2 separate regions of the Homo sapiens genome follow, and region 1 is linked to region 2. Evidence: fine-mapped expression QTL. A gene starts in region 2. The other region holds a variant in brackets. All regions are shown on one strand. Distances are from middle to middle.

Evidence for each region. PIP is the estimated chance that this variant, and not a neighbour inherited with it, causes the effect.
Region 1: its variant is the best candidate, but not a certain one, in a credible set for the expression of WIPI2 in whole blood (INTERVAL, PIP 0.72).

What each region holds. Positions count from the first base shown.
Region 1 is chr7:5,208,019-5,216,018 of GRCh38, reverse strand. It overlaps WIPI2 (WD repeat domain, phosphoinositide interacting 2), which reads right to left. Exons shown (of 13, transcript NM_015610.4): 4 at 1,315-1,484. Among named protein-coding and RNA genes, the nearest start is that of WIPI2, 22 kb to the right of the region's middle. The variant G/A (reference allele first, on the strand shown) is at 3,579.
Region 2 is chr7:5,177,195-5,193,755 of GRCh38, reverse strand. WIPI2 (WD repeat domain, phosphoinositide interacting 2) reads right to left here and starts at 3,523. Exons shown (of 13, transcript NM_015610.4): 1 at 3,263-3,523; 2 at 585-638. The coding sequence starts at 3,336. It also overlaps the pseudogene RNU6-215P. RefSeq lists silencers at 3,029-3,078, 3,089-3,738, 6,412-6,541, 10,551-10,751.

The sequences.
Region 1 (8,000 bases), 27 kb before region 2:
ATGCTAACCTACAGCTAAGACAAGTGTGCTGTGAATAGATTTGGAAAGATTTGCTTTTTAAAACTGATGCTGAGTGCAGCACAGGTAAAATGAAAATAAGGGGGTTTTAAAAGGTCTAACATTTTATTGTGCACTCAGATTACTTTGCAAGTTCCTGCTCCATTTGGAAGAAAATGAATGTAGACATGCAGACGATGCATCGCTGAGACAACTTATGCAAGAAAGATGACCAGCTCTACATTAGTTGGACGTGAACACAATTTTTAAATGCTCAAGATATGATGTCTTATAATTTCCCATTCTAACCAACTATGTCAGTTAACAGACCACTTCCTAGTTTCAACTGCGTAAGGCAAGAACGTCTCTACTGTGACTTCACCTAGTCACTGTATCTCAGGGTGCAGCTACTGGCTGTCATCATGTCCACTCTACAGCCAGCAGCCTAATCAGCTTTCCCTGCAGGGAGTGCGGGCAGAATCAGATTGCCAGGGGTCTCCCGGGTGGTGCTGTTACCCTGGGCGTGAGCACAAGCTGGGAGACACACACACGTGCGTGAAACACGCACACATGCCACCCACCACGTCCTTCCTCTGTGCCAGACAGTCTTATTAGTTTAGGGGGAGATAAAGTAATAAATCCTTCATCTTGAATTCAAAGTTAAACTAACAATTTACAAAAGGAAAAAAAAGTCTGTAAGTTTTTTTTTTGAGACGAAGTCTCACTCTTGTTGCCCAAGCTGGAGTGCAATGACATGACCTTGGCTCACTGCAACTTCCGACTCCCGGGTTCAAGCGATTTTCCTGCCTCAGCCTCCCGAGTAGCCGGGATTACAGGTGCCTGCCACCATGCCCGGCTAATTTTTGTATTTTTAGTAGAGACGGGGTTTCATCATGTTGGCCAGGCTGATCTCAAATTCCTGACCTCAGGCAATCTGCCCGCCTCGGCCTCCCAAAGTGTGGGGATTACAGGCGTGAGCCACTGTGCTCGGCCAAATATATTTTTTTTAAGTAACATTTATAAAAGCAAAACCAGGTAATAGGTGAAAGAGACTGCCATCCACCCTCTGGGTGGGGCCGGGGACGCCTGTATGGGAGCAGTGTGGCAGAGGCCCGGGCATTTGTCGTGAATGGAATGGGCTGAGCAAAGCTGGTGGGTGAGGAAACAGAGCTGGTCTCTGTAGGCAAGGATCTGTGCCCGGCAACGTGGGGCCAGGCAGCAAGGGAATGACGGAGGGGCATGCCGGTGGGGTGGGCTTGTCCCAGAGTGCTGGAGGGAGCAACAGACAAGCCCACACCCAGCTGGGGCAGCGCTCACCTGCCTGTTGAGCTTCACAGCCAGAATCGTGTTGGAGTAGCTGTAGTTGCAGATCTCAGTTCCCTTCTTAAAGTGGCAAACCTTTAGCTTCCTTGGTGCTTTAAGGCTGACGATGGCCACTAGGCTGCTGGAGAACAATCTCTCTACAATGCACACATCTTCCGTATCGGCTGAAATCACAAAGGGAAGTACATGCGTGAACATCTCCACATGGCTATGGCCACAGGCAGAATCTGCGCTCAAAAACAAACACCTGCCTGGGCGACACGCAGGGCACAGCGCTGAGGGTGCCTGCGGAACATGTGGTCATGGGGTGGGGACAGCCCGGGGGTCTGAGGGTCTTGATTCGCTGGAGCCTCAGGAGCATTTCCACTCTAAGGATGGCCCCTCACGAGCATTCACACGAAAGACAAAGGTTCCTTTCAGTCAGTTCTGTTGCTGGATTTGAATGGTGAGTTTAGGAACCAAACTCCTAGGTAAAGTGAAAGAGTAAGGTCTAGGGGCTCCCTTAATTAAGACACAAACTACTACGAAACTGCAATTGCTTCCCCTGGGTTCCATAGACTCATGTGCTGAGCGCTAGCCTACGTGCTCGCATACTGAGGCTGGCCAAAGAATCACACATGTCCAAAGTGGCATGACACATATTTATTAAAAAGATGTCGCTATTACACTCATGTCACAAAACGCTGACATACGTTCTAAGAAATGCCCTGAAGGGGCCGGGCGCGGTGGCTCACGCCTGTAATCCCAGCACTTTGGGAGGCCGAGGTGGGTGGATCACAAGGTCGGGAGATTAAGACCATCCTGGCTAACATGGTGAAACCCCATCTCTACTAAAAATACAAAAAATCAGCCAGGCGTGGTGGCGGGCGCCTGTAGTCCCAGCTACTCAGGAGCCTGAGGCAGGAGAACGGTGTGAACCCGGGGGACGGAGCTTGAAGTGAGCCAAAATCGCGCCACTGCACTCCAGCCTGGGCCACAGAGCGAGACTCCATCTCAAAAACAACAACAACAACAACAACAACAACAACAACAAAACAAAGAAAAGCCCCGTAGGCAATTGTGTCGTGCAAACACAAATCTAGATGGTAGGCCTACTATGCCCCTAGGCTGTATGCTGTGGCCTGTGGCTCCTGGCTACAGACCTGCGCTGCGTGTGACTAACTGGATACTGTGGCCAGCTGCAGCACAGTGACAAGTACTTGTGTGTGTGAATGAAACATGGGAAAGCTGCAGCAAAAACACGGCCTGCTCCTCTCACAGGACCACCCTCGCACCCGCGGCCCCTCGCTGACCTACGCGCCATCCTGCAGTGCGACACCACTTCAAATGGAACGGGCCATAAACACAAGTACATCATCCTAAGCTCTTCACAGCATCCATTCAGTGTCTTTTCAGTTGCTTTTACCAGAAAGCTGTCATAAACCTTCTTTCTGACAACAGCAAGCGACCTTCATTCAAAAGGAACAGATGCAAGCGTCTGCCACAAATGGGGAGATGGTGGCAGGGTCGGGGGGCCAGGGAGGACAGGCTCTGTCTGCAGCTTCTCTGCTCAGCAGCATCTCAGACTAGCGGCCACCGTCTTCCAGGATCTGTCAACGAAAGGCACGATCAGGAGGGATCATGCCAGTGCGTGGACACAGGAATCTTTGTCAGCGGATACACCTCTAGCACCTGGCATGCAGCACCACTCAGACACGAGGCCAACCCAACTCAGAAGAGATGGTGCATAACCCAGAATGTCAATTATTTGCAGTAAAAATAATTTCTCTAAAGATCAGACCCTGGTTCTCTGACCAGTCCCCTCTTTCCCTCAGGAGATTGACATGGATACTAAGTCACGGCAGCCCTGCTTGCTAGGCGGTGGGCGAGAAAGAGGGCTGGGGCCAGATGCGGTGCTTCGCACCTGTAATCCCCGCACTTTGGGAGGCCAAGGTGGGAGGATTGCTTGAGGGCAGGAATTCGAGACCAGCCTGGGCAACATAGTGAGGTCCTATCTCTACAAAAAATACAAAAATTAGCTGGGCGTGGTGGTGCATGCCTGTGTAGCTGAGGTAGGAAGAGTGCCTGATCCCAGGAGGTTGAGGCTGCAATGAGCGGTGATCACGTTCCTGCATGCCAGCCTGGGCAAAAGAGCGAGACCCTGTCTGTAATACCAGTCCTGCCCCAAAAAGGAGGGTAGGACTGAATGATGATCATGGCTGGTGTCCTGAGGCTGCCACCCTCACTTCTCAAATCCGGCAGCCAGATGTGCAAATCCA[G/A]GGGCACAAGGCCCTTCCCCGGCCACTGTCTAGCCTCTCACTCTCCAGGCACCCCATTCTCAGGTAGTACTTGGTAGTATTAGGGGCTGCACGCACTGGCCCGGTTGCATCCTGTACCTGTTGCCTCTAGTAGTCACCGCGCTTACCACTGAGAATCTAGGCAATGGCTGAGAGACAGAGTTCCCTGCTGGACTGATGGTCTGAGGACAGGTGCCGTGTTTGGCCCATTCACGGCTGCACCACCCCCAGGTCTAATGTCGCCTGTCATAGACGAGGAGCTCCTTCCACACTGGCTGAACGGATGGAATGGACCTTATGACCAGATTTTGGATATTCCCCAAACTCCCCAAATGGTGTTGTTTTAAAAACATCAAAACAACAACAACAGCAACAAAAAACAAAACTCAATCTCTGTGCCATTCAGTTTCAGTGGGTGGTGAAATGCTGTTAACCCCAGTGCTACATCCAAGAGGCAGAAGTGCTCTTGGTGAAGCTCAGCGGCACGCGTCCTAACACATGTACTGGGCGTGTGTGCGGCACTGCAACCTTGGTGAGTACTGGGTGCCACGGCGACCCTGCAGGAAGGCGAGTTTAACAATCACATTCCAGTCTCAGCTCTGCTCTAATTAGCTGTAAGGCCTGATATCTACTTCCTGAATGGTGAAAGAAGAGTTGGACTCTCAGCTTCATTAACTTCAGGGTTGGGACACATAGGAAAACCTGGTATACACAAAACTGGTTTTTTATTAAGTACAATTTTATTTAAATCCACTGGCCTCTCCACTGGCCTCCTAAATCCAATCAGTGGTGAAAAGAACTTACTTCCAAATAGGGCTGCTCCTCAACATGCACAGGCTCAGTATCTGTGAACTCACCTGCTAGGTAAGGTTTCTTTGTGACCCCGCATAAACACTCACGGTGTTTTACAGCCGTCCGTAGACACATGCGAAGTGGGATTTTATTTTTTTGAGACAGAGTTTTGCTTTTGTTGCCCAGGCTGGAGTGCAATGGCGTGATCTCGACTCACTGCAACCTCTGCCTTCCGGGTTCAAGCAATTCTCCTGCCTCAGCCTCCTGAGTAGCTGGGACTACAGTTGCATGCCACCACGCCTGCCTAATTTTTGTATTTTTAGTAGAGACAGGGTTTCACCATGTTGGCCAGGCTGGTCTTGAACTCCTGACCTCAGGTGATGCACCCGCCTCAGCCTCCCAAAGTGCTTGGATTACAGGCGTGAGCCACCGCTCCCAGCCTCGGGAAAAGATTTGAGTCACATGATGCACATGTTCCTGGCTGAGGTCACACAGGGCAACGTCCTATCTTCTCGTGTTGATTCTGAAAACAACTGTCCTTTTCCTGGTCTACATAGGGCTACTGAGTGTCTGCTTTTTGCACTTTTGTGCTTGTTGTTGATTTCACTGTTGGCCCTGGCACAGTGCTGAGTGTCGTCGAGTATCCCTAAGCACAAGCAGCCTGGGATGTACCCCGCGGAGAAAGCACATGTGTGGGCTGAGTTCTATGCGAGCCGCGAGTTCAATGTTAGTGAACCAACAATCCCCATTACGTCAGCATGTCTTGAGGCAGGGAAGCACACACAAAACGAGGTTGTCTTTTGATCAGCTGATGAAAATGTTGCGACCAGAGGCCACCTACCAATCCTTCCCCTGGGAGCAACACTTCATGATTCGCTAATCCAGCGTCCCAGAGACTTACAGACTAGAACTGTGAACAACAAGAATCAACTGTATTTTTATTTTTTTTCAAAGAATAGGTTCTTACTGCTTTGCTTGGTAAAACTTGACTTATTTACTTCACCCATTCAACACAAACAGCAGATCCTACACCAGTAGAGACCATCCCAAGTATACAGTGGTAAACAGGGCAGTGCCTGCCATCACGGAGAGGAGGCCAAAGAGATGTGGGCCCAGGGCCCTGTGTGGCACCGAAACTGCCAAAGGTCAGCAAAGGAGATTGAGTAAGAGAAAAGCCAAGACCGTGTATGAGATGGAAGTCAACAGAAGAGGGCATCTGAAGAACAGCAAGCAGGTAACTGTGCCCAGCACTGCAGAGGAGGGAAGAGGAAATGAGACACGTCCCCTGAGTCTGGGAACGAGGAGCTTATATGGCGACCTTGACATATTTTGATGGAGATGTGTAGGAAGAATGGCTGAAACATGAAAGAGAATGAGAAGTGGAAAAAAACTTAGGCAACTATCTATAGGAGTTATGCTACAGGCCAGGCGCAGGGGCTCACGCCTGGAGTCCCATCACTTTGGGAGGCTGAGGCAGGCAGATCACCTGAGGTCAGGCGTTCGAGGCCAGCCTGGCCAACATGATGAAACCCCATCTCTACTAAAAATACAAAAAATGAGCCGGGCATCGCGGTGGGCGCCTGTAATCCCAGCTACTTGGGAGGCTGAGGCAGGAGCATCAGTTGAACCTGAGAGACGGAGGTTGCAGCCAGCCGAGATGGCACCACCAGACTCCAGCATGGGCAGCACAACGAGACTCCACCAAAAAAACCAAAAAAACAAAACAAAAAAAGAAGTTATGTTCTGGAGAAGTAGAAATATGGGAGGGGCTGGGGGATATGCATGGGCAAGGGAAGTTTCTGTCTTCAAATACAGGAGCTACTAGATATACTGAGATGGATTTATGGTTGAGACTGCTTGCCTGGAGGAACAAACCACTTAGGGGGCTGGTCACCTGAAGAAGGAAAGAGAAGGGAGCCCCAGACCGACAGCACCAACCTCTCTTGAAGCAGCAGCAGGTGTTAACTGTGATGGGATGGAGGTGGGAGATTTCAAAGTGAGAACAGTATGAGACGATCATCTCAAAGAGCAAGTCGCCATTAGAGGTGGTGATAAATTCCAATTCAACTGCACAGAGAAAGACTGTGCCAACCCAACAGATGCAGAAAAAGCATGAGAAAATGCAATGCTCATTCATGGTAGAAACCTAAGAAACCTGGAATTAGGAAGAACCTTCTTTCACTGATGAAGGTTAAGAAACAGTTAAGAAAATCTACAGCTGACACTGTACTTAATGGTGAAGATATTTGATCTCTTCCCGTTAAGACTAGAAACAAGGCAAGGATACCCACTCTCCTTACTTTGTGCTCGAGGTCTTACACGTTGCAGTGAGGCAAGAAAAAGAAATAAAAGGCACAAACATTAGAAAGCAAGACATCAAACAGCCTTCACTGCCATCTTAAGGAATCTATGGAGCAACTATTTAATATATGAATTTAGCAAAGTCATAGGATACAAGATTAAAATATAAAAAATTAACTATATGTTTAGGCCAGCAGCAAACTGGAAAACTCAGTGAAATAATTTTCTTTTATGATAATGTCAAAATCCAAAGTATTAGGAATAAATTTTACAAAAGATGTAAGACCTCCATACCAAAAAAAAAAAAAAAAAAAAATCACAGAATATTACCAAAACAAATTTAAAAAGAGCTAAATAAATGAAGAGATATACCATATTCTGGGTACTCAATATTATTAACGTATCAACCCTCAAACTGATCTCTAGGTCCAATCCCATCCTAATCATAATCCCAACAGGCTCTTTTGCAGACAAAGTGGATTTTAAATTTTATATGGAAAGGAAAAGAAACTAGAAAATGCAAAGCTATCCTGAAAAAGAACAAAGTTGAAGACTGACAAATAGATCATTAGAAGAGACTAAAGAGTCCAGAAACAGACTCACAGGTCACAGGACTGTAAAGCACCAAAGCAATCCCAGGAGGGAAGAAAAATCTTCTCAACAAATGATGATGGAATAGGAATCCATTAGGAAAAAAACAACCTTGATTCATACCTCACAACATACATAAAAATTAATGAGATAGATTATTGACTTAAATATAAAAACTTTAGCTTTTATGTATAGTGTTAACTATATAAAGCTTTCACAGAACACATAGGAAAACACCTTCCTGACTACAGGGTAGGCAAAAGTTTCCTGGACAGGGCCTAGAAAGCAAAAACCATAAATGGAAGGAAAAAAAAAAACAACATAAATATGACTGCATCAAAATTTAAACCATTTGCTCAAAGAAAGAAAACAGGCAAGCCACAGACTAGGAGAAATAGTCACAAAACATATCTGACAAAGGACTGGTATCCAGAATATCTAAAGAGCTCTAACAACTCTATAATAAAAAGATAAACAACCAAACCTAAAAAGCAACAAAAGACTGGAACAGACATGTCACAGAGGAAGATATATAAACGGCCAACAAGCACATGAAAATGTTCAACATCATTAGTTACCTGAGAAATTCAAATTAAAACCATGAAGTTATCATTATACACACATCAGAAGGGCTGAAAAGAAAAAAACTAGTAATATCAAAAGTTGGTGAGGAGGCTGGGTGTGGTGGCTCACGCCTGTAATCCCAGCACTTTGGGAGGT
Region 2 (16,561 bases):
AACTAAAAAAAAAATTAGCCAGGTGTGGGGCCTACGCCTGTAGTCCCGGTTTCTCGGGAGGCTGAGGCAGGAGGACCGCTTGAGCCCAGGAACTCAAAGTTGCAGTAAGCTATGATCATTATAACTATGCCACTGCACTTCAAACTGTGCAACAGTGAGACTCCATCTCAAAAACAAAAACCCAAACCCTTGATTTACAGATGAACAAAGAGAGGAGAGCAGTACCTTCCCAGCACAATAAGCATAACCTAGAAGAGACATGGTGGAAGAAAACAACAGGTTTCTCCTGTTGTCTCCACACACTTCATAACATCAATTCTACAAACACAAGACTTGGAAAGTCAAGTCCCTTTCTTCATTCCATCCCTTTTAGACATGGCATTTAAAACAGACATTGCTACATCACTAACTTCCCACAAGCTGTGGTATCCACTGGAAAAATGTAGTCCTTGATATTTCCATTTCAGATTCAAGTGATCCTCTCCCACTTATTAACTGGTTCACTGCAATTTCAAAAAGCCAAAAAAGTCCTCTAACATAAGCCTTCCAAGGTGATACTTTCAGAAACCAGGGTTGGAACTAACCAGACAACAGCGCGACGGCCAAGACCAGCTGCTCTTGATGCCCCTTTCACTTCTCTAGGTAAAAAAACAAAACAAAACAAAAAACAAATGGTAAAAAACAAATAAAACTTATGCACACTTTTAGGATAGGAATCATGAAAAAGTACGACATTGGAAATCATATTACCAGTAAAGAAAGGCAGGACAGTTATAGTTTGGTATGTAACAAATACAAAAAGAATTTAAAAGACAAAAAAAAGGGAAATGACCCTATAACATATATATTCTAGTAAGTGAACTGGCTTCCAAATTTTCTCACTGCATACAGTAAATGTGAGTTCTAGACGGTCATTCTTTCACTTGCTAAAAATTGTGCTCCTCAATAAATTCTGGAGATTAAGAAGGGAGGAAAAGGTATAAGCCATAAAAGCTCTCTCCGGGAACTTCTCTATTTCTTTCAAGTGTAGATTTAAAACAAATTACCGTCATTTTAGCCCAGTCAACTTCTAGTATAATCCTAGCTTACTATTCATTCCAATTTAGGTTTACACTACATCAAGGTCTCTCTGGCAAGTCAAAGTTATGAAATCTCAAAGTAACAGAAATCTCTTGAACTGTAATAACTTCGGGGAGCATGGAGAAGTGGGTAAGTGTGAAAATGTCCAAGTGTGAAAAGGTCCTATTTCAGGCCAGAGTGACACTCTTCTGTGACACAGGGAACATGGCAGTCCAGCTGAAGTAACAGTAAAAGAGAATGCTTTTCTCTATTTGATTTCATTCTGATAGAAATAATTAGTGAAAAACTGAAAGAGTGGCCGACAATGTTTTGGAAACTCTCTAATTTATACAAGGCATAAACCACCCTACTACTACTACCATTTCTTACTGGTCTCAAAATACTGTGGCCTTGGGCTTAAAAACCAAATTAGAATTGGTTTGGGATGTGTCCTTTTCCCTATCTGGATTAACATAGTCTATTCCACTTGAACTGCAACAGGTTGTCCGAATTGTTTGTTGTTCTGGCTTTTGGTCACACAGAACGCTACAGTACTTGGGAGTTTTCATCTTTACACGTTGTTATGCTATTATTTCTAAATTCACTGTCTTCAGAATTCTACTCTGTAAACAGAAAAAAAAACAGCATGGCAGAGCAGAAAGAACATTGGAAGAGAGCTCAGGAGGCGAGATTCCACTCCTGCCCCCGCTCCACTATTAACCAATTCCAAAACCCAGACCAGCTTGGAGCCTTTCGGAAGGATTTCCTCATCTGTAGTTGGATGAGGTGATTTGCCCCTTCCGACTCTCAATACAGTCCCACTGTGCGACTGTCTTCACAGCTTTGGGGAGGTGCTATTGAGTGCCTGCTGTACACCACCCACTGAGTGTTGTCCATTCTACAATTCACTTTTAATTTCCTAAAGAATCTTACCTTCTGCTATGTTAATTCCACTCAGCCAGTAACAACTCAACCAATGACTTAGTAAGATGCCAAATGCCCCACTCCTTCTCTTTCCTCACTTCCTCTTACTCACTTCCAAGATGGCTCTCCTCCCTGCCAACCCCATAACTCACCCTTCTCTCTCCAGAAAGCTCGCTCATCTATTAACCATCCCCACAAGTCCTCCTCCCAGGCAGCATCCAACCCGTATCAGTGGGGACAAACAGCGTTCCGAATGCACGGGCTGGCATTAAGGCCTTCTCTTGCCCTGAGGATGACCCACCCGCTGGAGCTCTGAGACTCCTGGGGCACTGGTCCGTAACGCCTCTCTTGGCTCAGTTTCTCCCTAGCTAGGTCAGATGCCAAGGTTATTGCTAAGTTTGTTACTTGCTGGAGAAGACATCAAAGTTGATGTCCCAAAAAGAACAGGGAGGGCCGCGCACGGTGGCTCACACCTGTAATCCCAGCACTTTGGGAGGCTGAGGTGGGCGGATCACTTGAGGTCAGGAATTTGAGACCAGCCTGACCAACATGGTGAAACCCTGTCTCTACTACAAATACAAAAAAGTTAGCTGGGCACAGTGGCGCGTGCCTGTAGTCTCAGCTACTCGGGAGGCTGAGGCAGGAGAATCGCTTGAACCCAGGAGGCGGAGGTTGCAGTGAGCTGAGATGGCACCACTGCACTCCAGCCTGGGCAACAGAGCAAGACTCTGTCTCAAAACAAAACAAACCCCAAAAAACAAAAACAAACAAAAAAACAGTGAGAAACGAAGAAAAGAAAATCAAGAGAGAGAGAAGGGTCTTAAGACGATGAAAAGACAAGGAGAAGGGCCTGATTCAAAGGAGAGTGAGTGGGAGACGCTGAGCAAGCAGCGGGAAGAGGAGACGAGAGGAGAGGAAGCGACCCACACCCAGCGCTCCACAGGCGGCCAAGACAAGTCAAGCCCCAAAGTTCGGCCCCAACTTTGCGAGAAGTAGTTAAGTCTGAAGCCAGGGGGCCTCCCCGCAAGAGGGTGAAAGCAGCCCCCTCTCCACCACCTCTCCCGCTCCGGGACCGCAGCTCCAGGCCAGCACCCGAGGGTCTCCCTGGAGGGCGCCCCTCCCTGCACGCCCCGGGCCCGCCCCTGGGGACGCCTCTGCGCGCCTTGGCCCGCGGGGAGGCCGAGCCTGCGACGCCGCCGAGCTTGGCAGCGAGGCCCTCCCCCTAGCCCGGGTCCGACCCTGGCCTCACCCCGACTCCGACCCCCGACCCCGGCCTTACGTGTTGTCCTGGTTGAAGTTGGCGAAGAGCAGCTGGCCGGCGCCGGCCTCCCCGCTCTGGCTCGCCAGGTTCATGGCTGGGCGCGCGGCGAGTGGGCCCGGCCGGGGAGGGCGCGCGCGCGAGGGCGGGTCAGGCTGCACTCAGGGTCGGCGCCGGGCCCCGCTCGCCGCCTCGGTCGCCGCCACTCGCCACCCTGGGATCAACCGCCGCCTCATCCCGTCCCCGCTCTTGTTTATGCTCCAGAGCCGGGGCACCCGGTACGCCTGCGCGGCCCCGCCCCCGCGACGCACGGCCTCGAGCGGCGCAGTCGCACTGCGGAGGCCCCGCCCTCTCACCGCCTGCCTGGGCTTGGGTTCCGGTGGATCACGCAGGCGTGGGGACGCGTCGGGGCGCGCTGGGCCTGGCTGAGGGCGAGCGGCGGCCGCTCATGCGCATGGGGCAGAGCTGGCGGGAGTCTGTTTTCTGCGTACCCTCCTCTTAATAACACTCAATGGCCAGGCACGGTGGCCTGTAATCCCAGCATTTTGGGAGGCCAAGGCGGGCGGATCACCTAAGATCAGAAGTTCGAGACCAGCCTGGCCAACATGGTGAAACCCCGTCTCTACTAAAAATACAAGAAAAATTAGCCGGGCTTGGTGGTGTACGCCTGTAATCCCAGCTACTCGGGAGGCTGAGGCAAGATAATCGCTTGAACCCAGGAGGCGGAGATTGCAGTGAGCCGAGATCATGCCACTGCAATCCATCCAGCCTGGGCCATAGAGCGAGACTCTGTCTCAAACAACAACAAAAACAAAAACAAAAACACCCCAATGGGCCCTCCATGTGCCAATCACTGTGCTGAATGCTTCTGCGCATTACCTTATCATTTTATTATTTTGAAAGACAAGGTCTCGCTCTGTTGCCTAGGCTGGAGTGCAGAGGCTCAATCACAGCTCACTGCAGCCTCAAACTCAGGCTCAAGCGATCCTCCCACCTTAGCCTCCCAAGTAGCTGGGACCACAAATGCATGCCACCACACCCTGCTAACTTTTAAGTTTTTTGTAGAGATGGGGTGGGGGCGGGGGGGGTCTTACTCTGTTGCCTAGGCTGGTCTCGCACTCCTGGCCTCAAGTGATGCTCCCACCTCGGCCTCCCAAAGTACTGGGATTACAGATGTGAGCCACTGTGCCCAGCCACATTATCTTATTTGATGCCCATTACAATCCTAAGTAGAGAATAGTATATCTTAATTTTACAGATTTGAAAATCGAGGCTCAGAAATAATTATTAGCCAAGTGCTAGATCTGAGACTGGAAACGTCCTGTTTCTCCAAGGTCCATACTGTCTGGGTTCCTGGGACAGAATCGTCCCTTAAATTTATTCATTCATTCAACAGTATTTAGGACGCACCTCTCATGTGAACTAAATAGGCCTCCTCCTTTCCCTCAGAGAAGTTATAATGGGGAGATATTTAAATATAAATAGAAGGCCAGGTGTGGTGGCTCTTACCTGTAATCCCAGCACTTTGGGAGGCTGAGGCGGGTGGATCACCTGAGGTCGGGAGTTCCAGACCAGCCTGGCTAACATGGTGAAACCCCGTCTCTACTAAAAGTACAAAAGTTAGCTGGGTATGGTGGTGGGCACCTGTAATCTCAGCTACTAGGGAGGCTGAGGTGGGAGAATTGCTTGAGCCCCACAGGTGGAGGTTGCAGTGAGCCGAGATTGCACCTCTGCACTCCAGCCTGGACGGACGACAGAGTGAGACTCCATCTAAAAAGTAAAATAAAATAGGCTGGGCATGGTGACTCACGCCTGTAACCCCAGCACTTTGGGAGGCTGAGGCAGGTGGATCACCTGAGGTCATGAGTTTGAGACTAGCCTGCCCAACATGGTGAAACCCTGTCTCTAGGAAAAATGTAAAATATTAGCCAGTTGTGGTGGCACGGCCCTGTAATCCCAGCTACTCAGGAGACTGAGATGGGAGAATTGCTTGAACCCAGGAGGTGAAGGCTGCAGTGAGCCGAGATCATGCCACTGCACTCCAGCCTGGGCGACACAGTGAGACTCCATCTCAAAAAATAAAATAAATAAATATAATTAGAAACTCGGGGGTACAATGAGCGAATATATATATATATATATATATATATATATTTTTTTTTTTTTTTTTTTTTTTTTTGAGACGGAATTTCACCTTCTTGACCAGGCTGGAGTGCGATGGCGCAATCTCGGCTCACTGCAACGTCCACCTTCCGGGTTCAAGTGATTCTCCTGCCTCAGCCTCCCGAGTAGCTGGGATTACAGGTGTGCACCATCACGCCCAGTTAATTTTTGTATGTTTAGTGGAGACGGGATTTCTCCATGTTGGTCACGCTGGTCTCGAACTTCCGACCTCAGGTAATCTGCCTGCCTCGGCCTCCCAAAGTGCTGGGATTACAGGCATGAGCCACTGTGCCTGACCATGAATGCATATATAGAAGTCACACAACCTATATTTAAGGGACAGGGACTGTGCTATTGAGAAGGCTCCTGGAAGAGATGAGACCTGAAGTTTGAGTAACTAGTCTAAGGGCATGAAAACACTCTATATGGGAAGGGCTTGAGGATGAGGGTGTGACCTGTCCAAAGAACTCTATGTTCAGAGTGGAAAGGCAGACACAAGGCAAGATTTGGCAGGAGAGACAGGAGGTGGCCAGATCAAGCTGCGTATTGTTACGCAAGGAACTGACCATTATCTGATTATTGTCCATAAGAGCAATGGTCTGCCGTTAAAGACAGGCAGGAAAGTGGAACGATCTAATGAGTGCTTACAGAAGTTAATTCTAATTATAGGGTCAAGAACGCATTGGAAATCATTGAGGAAAGGATGGTCTTTTCAATAAAAGGAATAAGTACCCCTACCTCACACCATATTCAAAAATTAATTTGAGATGGATTACAGTCCTAGATGTGAGAGGTAAAAACAATAGAATTTCTAGAAGGAAACGAGAATGCCTTCATGATTTTGGGATAAACAAAGTAGTCTAAACAGGTACTTTAAAGCGGATGTGTTGGCTCATGCCTGTAATCCCAACACTTTGGGAGGCTGAGGCAGGCGGATTGCTTGAGTCCAGGAGTTTGAAACCAGACTAGGCAACATGGGGAAACCCGGTCTCTACAAAAATACAAAAATTAGCTGGGCGTGGTGGTGTGCGCCTGTGGTCCCAGCTCCTTCAGAGGCTAAGGCGGGAGGATGGCTTGAGCCTGGGAGTTCAAGCCTGCAGTGAGCTATGACCGCGCCACTACACTCCAGCCTGGGTGACAGAGCAAGATCCTGTCTCAAAACAAAACAAGTTCTTTAAAAAGTAGTAACCACAGGCCGGGCGCGGTGGCTCACGCCTGTAATCCAGCATGTTGGGAGGCCAAGACAGGCAGATCACGAGGTCAGGAGATCGAGACCATCCTGGCTGACATGGCGAAACCCCGTCTCTACTAAAAATACAAAAAATTAGCCGGGTGTGGTGGCTGGTGCCTGTGGTCCCAGCTACTCAAGAGGCTGAGGCAGGAGAATGGCGTGAACCCGGGAGGTGGAGGTTGCAGTGAGCTGAGATCGCACCACTGCACTCCAGCCTGGGTGACAGAGCGAGACTCTGTCTCAAAAGAAAAAAAGTAGTAACCACAAAATGAGAGATTGGCCTTCATCAACATTGAGAAGAATGGGCTATTTTCAAGAGACCATTAAGAGAGGAAGAAAAGGCAAGATTTAGAGATACATATATTTATTTTATATATATATATATATATATATATATATATATATATTTTTTTTTTTTTTTTTTTTTTTTTTTTTTTTGAGACGGAGTCTTGCTCTGTCACCAGGCTGGAGTGCAGTGGTGCGATCTCGGCTCACTGCAACCTCTGCTTCTAGGGTTCAAGCGATTCCCCTGCCTCAGCCTCCCAAGTAGCTGGGACTACAGGCGTGTGCCACCACACCAGGCTAATTTTTTGTGTTTTAGTAGAGATGAGGTTTCACTGTGTTGGCCAGGATGATCTCAATCTCCTGATCTCGTGATCTGCCCGCCTTGGCCTCCCAAAGTGCTGGGATTACAGGCATGAGCCACCACGCCCGGCCTGCAATATATATATTTTTGACAAAGGAATTATACCCAGAACTTCTGCGCATCAATAAGAAAAATATAGACAGCTTTTTTTTTTTTAACTGGGCAAAATACTTGAACACAAGCACTTCACAAAAGAGGATATCAGAATGTTAATGAGCACCTGAAAAGGTGGTCATCGTTAATACTCATTAAGAAAATGTAAATTAAGGCTGGGTGTGGTGGCTCACACCTGTAATCCCAGCACTTTGGGAGGCCAAGGTGGGAGGATCACCTGAGGTCAGGAGTTCGAGACCAGCCTGGCCAACACGGTGAAACCCTGTCTCTACTAAAAATACAAAAATGAGCTGGGCCTGGTGGTAGGCACCTATAGTCCTAGCTACTCGGGAGGCTGAGGCAGGAGAATCGCTTTAACCTGGGAGGCAGAGGTTGGAGTGAGCCGGGATCACACCACTGCACTCCAGCCTGGATGACAGAGCAAGACTCCATCTCAAAAAAACCAAACAAACAAACAAAAAAAGAAAATGCAAATTAAGGGCAAATGAGGTATTACTAAGCATCCACCAAATTGGCTAAAATTAAAGCAACTGACAATCCCAAGTGTGGATGACCATAGAGCGCAATTGGAACTCTCATACACTGTGGATGGAGTCTCGCTCTGTTGCCCAGGCTGGAGTGCAGTGGCACGATCTCGGCTCACTGCAAGATGAAAGTCTAAATTGTTTCAACCACTTTGGAAAACTTGGGCACTACCTACTAAAGTTTTGTTTTTGTTTTTTGTTTTTTTGTTTTTTAAATGGAGTTTTGCTCTTGTCGCCCAGGCTGGAGTGCAGTGGCACAATCTTGGCTCACTGTAACCTCAGCCTCCACCTCTTAGGTTCCAGCGATTCTCCTGTCTCAGCCACCCAAGTAGCTGGCATTACAGGCACCCACCACCACGCCCGGCTAATTTTGGTATTTTTAGTAGAGACGGGGTTTCACCTTGTTGGTCAGGCTGGTCTTGAATTCCTGACCTCAGGCCACCACGCACGGTCTATTTACTAAAATTAAACATATATATACCTTTTGACTCGGCCAAATGCACTGTATATGCATTTCTAGGTGCATATACAGTAGAATTAGTGCATATTTTCACTAAAAGACATAAATAAGAATGTTCATAGCTACTGCATTCATAATAAAGTGCTGAGATTACAGGCGTGATTCACCGCACCTGGCTTGGTAATGTACTTTCATACTTTCTTTAATAAGTCTGCCAATCACAGCACTTTGGGAGGCCGAGGAGGGCGGATCATGAGGTCAGGAGATCAAAACCATCTTGGCTAACATGGTGAAACCCCGTCTCTACTAAAAATACAAAAAATTAGCCAGGCGCGGTGGCGGGCGCCTGTGGTCCCAGCTACTTGGGAGGCTGAGGCAGGAGAATCGTTTGAACCCAGGAGGCGGAGGTTGTGGTGAGCCGAGATTGCACCACTGCACTCTAGCCTGGGCTACAGAGCAAGACTCCGTCTCAAAAAAAAAAAAAAAGTCTCTTTCTTTACTTACCACTGTATAGTCATGTCTCACCCGCCATGGTTATTGGTGAATGAAGATACATAAAGAGGTGCCTGAGTGAATCCTCGGGGTTCTAGACATAGTTCTCCTCGATCTCATTCTGAGCAGCAACCCAACTTTCCCTTGCTCATAGCAATCTATGATCCCAGCTGGAACAGAAACTCCTTCTCTCTCTATTGGTTCAGTGAATGAAGATCCCAAAATGACCGCGAAGTAGACTCAGTTTCCAATGGACCAGAACCACAACTCTGTTCCCTGGGATAAAACAGGGAATTCCATGGCCTGGGTGAGGTGGCTCACACCTGTAATCCCAGCACTTTGGGAGGCTGAGGCGGGTGGATCACCTGAGGTCAGTAGTTCGAGACCAGCCTGGCCAACATGGAGAAACCTCATCTCTACTAAAAATACAAAATTATCCGGGCGTGGTGGCACCTGCCTGTAATCCCAGCTACTCGGGAGGCCGAGGCAGGAGAATCACTTCAACCCGGGAGGCGGACGTTGTGGTGAGCCAAGATCACACCATTGCACTCCAGCCTGGGCAACAAGAGCGAAACTCCATCTCAAAAAAAAAAAAAAAAAAAGCGAATTCCTTGTGTGTTAGGATCTCAAACTCCAGTAAGCCCTGAGTTGGGTAGATGAAAACAAAAGTTCCTTAAGTGAGTTATTAGATGTTATATGCAAGGAAAAACTACCACCTCCACTCTTGGTTTGCAGGTGTGTACTGCATATTATTGAACAACAGCCCAGTCTTACAGGATGTGGTCTCTTAGCTGCAGTCATGACTGAGCCTTCCATAGGCTTGCTTCAGTAGCCTTCTGTAGGCCACTCTACCATCCATCTGGGTAATAGGGCACATGGTGAATCCCAAACGCATGAGCCCATTGTCAAAATTCCTTCATCTTAGTGTAAAGCTCTCAGTCAAAAGAGATGTGAATGGCTGGGCGCGGTGGCTCACGCCTGTAATCCCAGCACTTTGGGAGGTCGAGGCAGGTGGATCACTTGAGGTCAGGAGTTCGATACCAGCCTGGACAACATGGTGAAACCCCATCTCTACTAAAAATGCAAAACTTAGCCGGGCATGGTGGAGGGTGCTTGTCATCCCAGCTACTCAGGAGGTTGAGGCAGAAGAATCGCTTGAACCCAGGAGGCAGATTGCAGTGAGCTGAGACTACACCACTGCACTCCAGCTTGGGTGACAGAATGAGACTCTGTCTCAAAAAAAAAAAAAAAAAAGAAAAAAAGAAAGAAAAAAAAAGACTGGGAGGATCAATTTCTATGTTTATTCAAAGAAACCATAAACATCAGTTCCATGGGGACAATTGGGCTGGTTTCACCTCAAGAACTAAACCCTGGTCCTCCTTTTCTGGTGGCCAGGATGGGCTGGAGCTGAGAGCCGCTGCTCACTCATCCAGCTTTTGTTTAATTGCTCTATCATCTGCGTGGTATTGGGAACTGCCAGAAGGGTGTTGTTGGAGAGCAGGCTGGGTTTCTGCCAGGGACGTGACCTGCGTGTGACGCAGGAATGCACCTGCATGTCTTGGCTCACCTGGAGACAGCATCAGCTGACATTCCTGATGGCATGGAGAGCAGGAAGGATGCTCAGGGCCTTCTATCATCACTTTGGGATTCCTCCAGGTGACCGGCCCGATGCCCAGCTCAGAGAGAAGAGACTTTCTGCTTTCAACCTGAGAGCAGAACCCTCATCTGCAGGTGCGTGGAGTCTCCTTATTTGCTAGCTTCGGAGCTGAGCAATCCTCCCACAGATCAGTGCCTAAATAAACTTGTGGGATAAACAGCTGGTGTGGAGGAGGGAACTAAGGACTGGAGTGAAAGGGTACATGAGTGGAGGAAGGGCTGGACATGCAGAACACTCATATCAAACAGGTGTGTTGGGGTTCAAACCCTGGCTTGGTTCTCCGGGGATATATGACTTTACATCAGTCACTTAACCTCGCTGAGCATTAGTTTCTTTAAAAAGAAGGGCTATGGCTGGGCGCGGTGGTTCATGCCTGTAATCCCAGCACTTTGGGAGGCCGAGGTGGGTGGTTCACCTGATGTCAGGAGTTCAAGACCAACATGGTAAAACCCCATCTCTACTAAAAATACAAAAATTGGCCGGGCGTGGTGGCTAATGCCTGTAATCCCAGCTACTCAGGAGGCTGAGGCAGGAGAATAGCTTGAACCCGGGAGGCGGAGGTTGCAGTGAGCTGAGATCACACCACTGCACTCTAGCCTGGGCGACAGAGCGAGACTCCATCTCAAACAAAAACAAAAAAAAAACACAGAAGAGCTTGAATATCTCACAACCTAAGAATGCTATTAAGATAGAGTGGGGAGCCAGGCACGGTGGCTCATGCCTGTAATCGCAGCACTTTGGTAGGCTGCGGTGGTTGGATCACTTGAGGTCAGGTGTTCAAGACAAGCCTGGCCAACATGGCAAAACCCCGTCTCTACTAAAAATACAAAAAGATAGCTGGGCATGGTGGCTTGCACCTATAATCCTATCTACTCGGAAGGCTGAGGCAGGAGAATCGCTTGAACCCGGGAGGCAGAGGTTGCAGTGAGCCGGAGATCGCGCCATTGCATTCCAGCCTGGGCAACAGAGTGAAACTACATCTCAAAAAAAAAAAAAAAAAAAAAAGGCCAGGCCAGACGCGGTGGCTTATGCCTGTAATCCCAGCACTTTGGGAGGCTGAGGCGGGCGGATCATGAGTTCAGGAGATCGAGACCATCCTGGCTAACACGATGAAACCCCGTCTCTAGTAAAAAATACAAAAAATTAGCCGGGCATGGTGGCGGGCACCTGTAGTCCCAACTACTTGGGAGGCTGAGGCAGGAGAATGGTGTGAACCCTGGAGGCGGAGCTTGCAGTGAGTAGAGATCGCGCCACTGCACTCCAGGCTGGGCGACAGAGCGAGACTCCATCTCAAAAAAAAAAAAAAAAAAAAAAAAGAAAGGTACAAAATCTCAGTTAGAAAGAAGGAATGCTTTTTTGAGAGCTATTGCACAGCCTGGTGAATATAACTAACAACACTGTATAGTACATTTCAAAACTGTTAAGAGGTCAGGCGTGGTGGCTCACGCCTGTAATCCCATCACTTTGGAAGGCCAAGGTGGGAGGATCACTTGAGCTCTGGAGTTAGAGACCAGCCTTGGCAATATAGTGGGGCTCCATCTCGGCAAAACAATTTTAAAAATTAGCCAGCCATGGTGGCGCACAGCTGTAGTCCCAGCTACTTGAGAGGCTGAGGTGGGAAAATTTCTTGAGCCTGGGACGTTGAGGCTGCAGTGAGCCGTGATCATGCCACTACACTCCAGCCTAGGTGACAGAGTGAGACCCTGTCTCTAAAACAAAAAAAAAATTGTTAAGAAAATAAATTTTAAATGTTCTCACCACCAAAAAATATAAATATTTGAGGTGATGGATGTATTAATTAGCTTGATTTAATTATTCCACGTTGTATTCATAAGCCATAACATCACGTTGTACACCATAAATACACACATGGTCAATTTACAATAAAATTTTAAAAATGTAAAGAATGGCAATGGAAACAAAAAATATTGAATGGATAAAAGGAAATGCTTCCAGAATAGTGGAGCAAGAATCTCCAAAAACTCACTCCTCCATATAAGCAAAGAGAATGCTGACAAAAATGGTCAAAATCAATTTCTTCAGACCTGGAAATTATCTAAAGGCTTGCAACAATTTGAAGAGTATATGTTCAAGTAAGAGGGCTGAATCTCAGTATAAACACTGATTTTGTGCCATTTTAATTTGCTCTAAAAGCATCCCTCTCTTCCAGATCCATGAAAATAGGCTGGCTTTTAACCATGGTAGCTGTGAAAACAAGCATCTTGCCAGTCACTGGAAGAGGCAGGCTGGGCTTGGAGCTCCCTAAAAGCCCCATCCCCCAAAAACTGTCACTATTTGACTTGTCTGCCAGTTTGCTGAAAAATGCTATTCTCAAAGCTTGTCTTTATTTGATCCAAGAGTTTGCCAGTATCTGTGCAAATAGCCCTATGCCCAAGGCATTTGTCCAAAACAATCAGTGGCAATTGTTTAACATTTCAACTACCTGATGTGGTGTAACCGTGGCAAGGCAAGGGTTAAAAAGAAAAGAAGAACAAGTTTTCCTCTGCTTAGCAGCTCACTTCAAGGACAGTTACAAGATAACACTGTCTGAAAAGTTGAAGCCAAAGGAATGGGCTCCAGACATCCATACCCGGCTAATTTTTTGTATTTTTAGTAGAGATGGGGTTTCACCATGTTAGCCAGGATGGTCTCGATCTCCTGACCTTGTGATCCCCCGCCTCGGCCTCCCAAAGTGCTGGGATTACAGGCGTGAGCCACTGCGCCTGGCTTGATCAAAAATTTTTTAAAGGAATAACTGGGAAAAGAGATGCCAATAAGATACTTTAAAAAACCCCTGCTGTGTTTCTGAGAATCTAGTGGGCTACGTGCATGTACAGGGCTGTGCGCACACCCAGGAAGACCTGAGAAGGTCCTAAACTCTCACCTCTGGCTGACCTTGAGTGTCTGCACAAGAGGAAATGAAGGCTAAGGCAGAGTTGTAAGTTGCTTGCTGGAGTATTGAAAACATGCCTCAACACACACAGAGTTTGTCAGCAAATGCTGGGAAACTTAATGGTCTAAAGCATTTAAAAAGATCACTTTTTAATTTTTTAAATCATTTTTTTAAAAATATGGAATAATTCACGAATTTGTGTGTAATCCTGGCACAAGGGTCAGATAATCTTCTCTGTATCATTTTAATTTTAGTGTATGTGCTGCCAAAGCAAGTAGACGTCTAGGAATATCTCTGTCCAGTTATTAGCTGACCACTGAGATAACTAAGCAAAGTCTTCAGTGGTTGCACAGAACAAAGAACACAGATTTTACAAAGTCCAGAAAAGTCACTAAACAAACACCAGCAGCAACAAGCAACAACAACAGCAAACCCCAGGGAGTGGGGAGAGAGGAATCTGATTTCCAGAAGTGCCATATTGTTTAATTTAATTTTTTTTTCTTTTGTAGAGACAGAGTCTTCCTATGTTGCCCAGGCTGATCTCAAAGTCCTGGGCTCAAGTGATCCTCCTGTCTTAGCCTTTCCAAGTGCTGGGATTACAGGCGTGATCCACTGCACCCGGCCATAAACTATGATGTTTGCCAGGCTAGGTGTATTGAATGCATTTTGACTTATGATATTTTCAACTTAAAATGGGTTTATCAAGACATAATTCTATTGTAAGTTGAGGAATATCTGTATATGCATAATGCAAATCCCAGAAGGATAGGATTGAGAAGAGGGGGAGAAAGAATATTAGAAGAAATAGAGGGTGAAAACTTCCTGAATTCGATTTAAAAAATATTAATCTAAATATTCAAAAAGTTTGATGAACTCCAAGTACGATAAACTAAAAAACGATTAACAGCTAGGCACATGATAGTCAAAGTGTTGAAAGTCAAAGAGAATCGTGAAAGTAGCAAGAAAAGTGTAACTCATCACATACAAGGGACATTCAATAAAATTAACAGTTGAGTTGCTATCAGAAAAAATGGTCACGATCCAGTTTTCCCAGCACCATTTGTTTGCAAAGGCAATTCTTTCCCCCTCAAATTGAAACACTTGTCAAAAACATAAGGGCTTACTTCTGGACTCTTGGTTCTATTCTATTGATCTAATGTCTATCCTTATGCCAGTACCACACTGTCTTGATTACCGTAGCTTTGCAGTAAGTTTTAAAACTGGGAAGTGTGAGACCTCTAACTTGGTACGTCTGTCTTCCAGATTGTTTTAGCTATTCCAGGTTTCTTAATTTTCATAGGAATTTTAGGACCAGCTTGTCAGTTTTTGCAAAACTACAGTCAGAATTTTGATAGGAATTGTGTTGACCCTGTAAGTAATTTTTGAGACAATTGGTATCTTAATATTAAGTCCTGGGCATGGTGGCACATGCCTGTAGTGCCAGGTACTTTGGAGGCTGAAATAGAAGGATGATTTGAGTTCAGATACTCAAGTCCATCCTGGGCAACATAGTAAGAACTTCATCTCTAAAAACAAAAACAAAACCCACAACATTAAGTCTTCTGATCCATGAATATGGGACGTATTCCCATTTATTTAGGTCTGTGATTTCTTTCAACAATGTTTTGTGGTTTTAAATATACAAGTCTTGCAGTTTATTTGTTTATTTATTTGAGATGGAGTCTCTCTCTGTCCCCAGGCTGGAGTGCAGTGATGCAATCTCAGCTCACTGCAACCTCCGCCTCCGGGGTTCAAGCCATTCTCATGCCTCAGCTTCCTGAGTAGCTGGGACTATAGGCTCACGCCACCATTCCCAGTTAATTTTTTTGTGTTTTTAGTAGAGATGGGGTTTCGTCATGTTGCCCAGGCTGTTGTTGAACTCCTGACCTCAAGTGATCCACCCACCTCGGCCTCCCAAAGTGCTAGGATTACAGGCATGAGCCACTGTGCCCAGCCAATCCTATTTCTTTGCATGTCTCATAATTATTTCTTGAAAGCTGGATTTTTTTAAAAATTATTATTATTATTATCATTATTTGAGACAGAGTCTTGCTCTGTCGCCCAGGCTGGATTGCAGTGGCGTGATCTTGGCTCACTGCAAGCTCTGCCTCCTGGGTTCATGCCATTCTCCTGCCTCAGCCTCCCGAGAGCTGGGACCACAGGTGCCTGCCACCACACCTGGCTGATTTTTTGTATTTTTAGTAGAGACGGGGTTTCACCGTGTTAGCCAGGATGGTCTCAATCTCCTGACCTCGTGATCTGCCCGCCTTGGCCTCCCAACGTGCTGGGATTACAGGCGTGAGCTGCCACGCCCGGCCAAAAACTGGACGTTTTAGATAATGTATTTTAGCAACTCTGACACTTGATTCCCCCAACTCCAGTCAGGGGTTGTGGTTACTGTTGTTTGCTAGGTGATGTATTACTTTGTGACTGGGCTGAACAAGTTTCACCACTACGATCCTCATCTCACACTATGCAGACTCAGATGTCCCTGCTCAGATTTTTTCTTCCTGTTTTTACCTTTTAACTTGGCTACCTAGGGGTCGCCCCTGGGTCAGCATAAGCCACTTAATGGTTAAAGATTGTGCTTGGCCAGGCACGGTGGCTCATGTCTGTAATCCCAGCACTTTGGGAGGCCGAGGCAGGAGGAGCACTTGAGCCCAGGAATTCAAGACGGGCCTGGGCAACACAGCGAGACCCCATCTCTACAAAAAATAAAACAAATTAGCCAGTCATGGTGGTGCATGCCTGTAGTCCCAGCTACTCAGGAGACTGAGGTGGGAGGATTGCTTGGGCCCAGGAGTTCAAGGCTGCAGTGAGCCATGATCATGCCACTCCATTCCAGCAGCCTGAGTGACAGAGTGACACCTTGTCTCTCTCTCAAAAAAAAGTTGTGTTTAAGCCCCTTGGCCAGTTAGATTTTTGCCCTTTCCCACTGGACGTGTGTGTGGCTTGGAGGCTGCTATCACCATTCAGAGAATTTCCCCTTTTGCCCTGGTCAGTCAGGAACTGGTAGCTTGGCATTCTTCCTGTGATTTCTCCCGAGAAGGCGCAGCTTTGGGCAGGCAGCCTTCCAGATGGCCGGGGATGGCTCTGACGTCATCTTTAAGCCTGGCTTCCTAGGAGTCACCGCTGTGCCA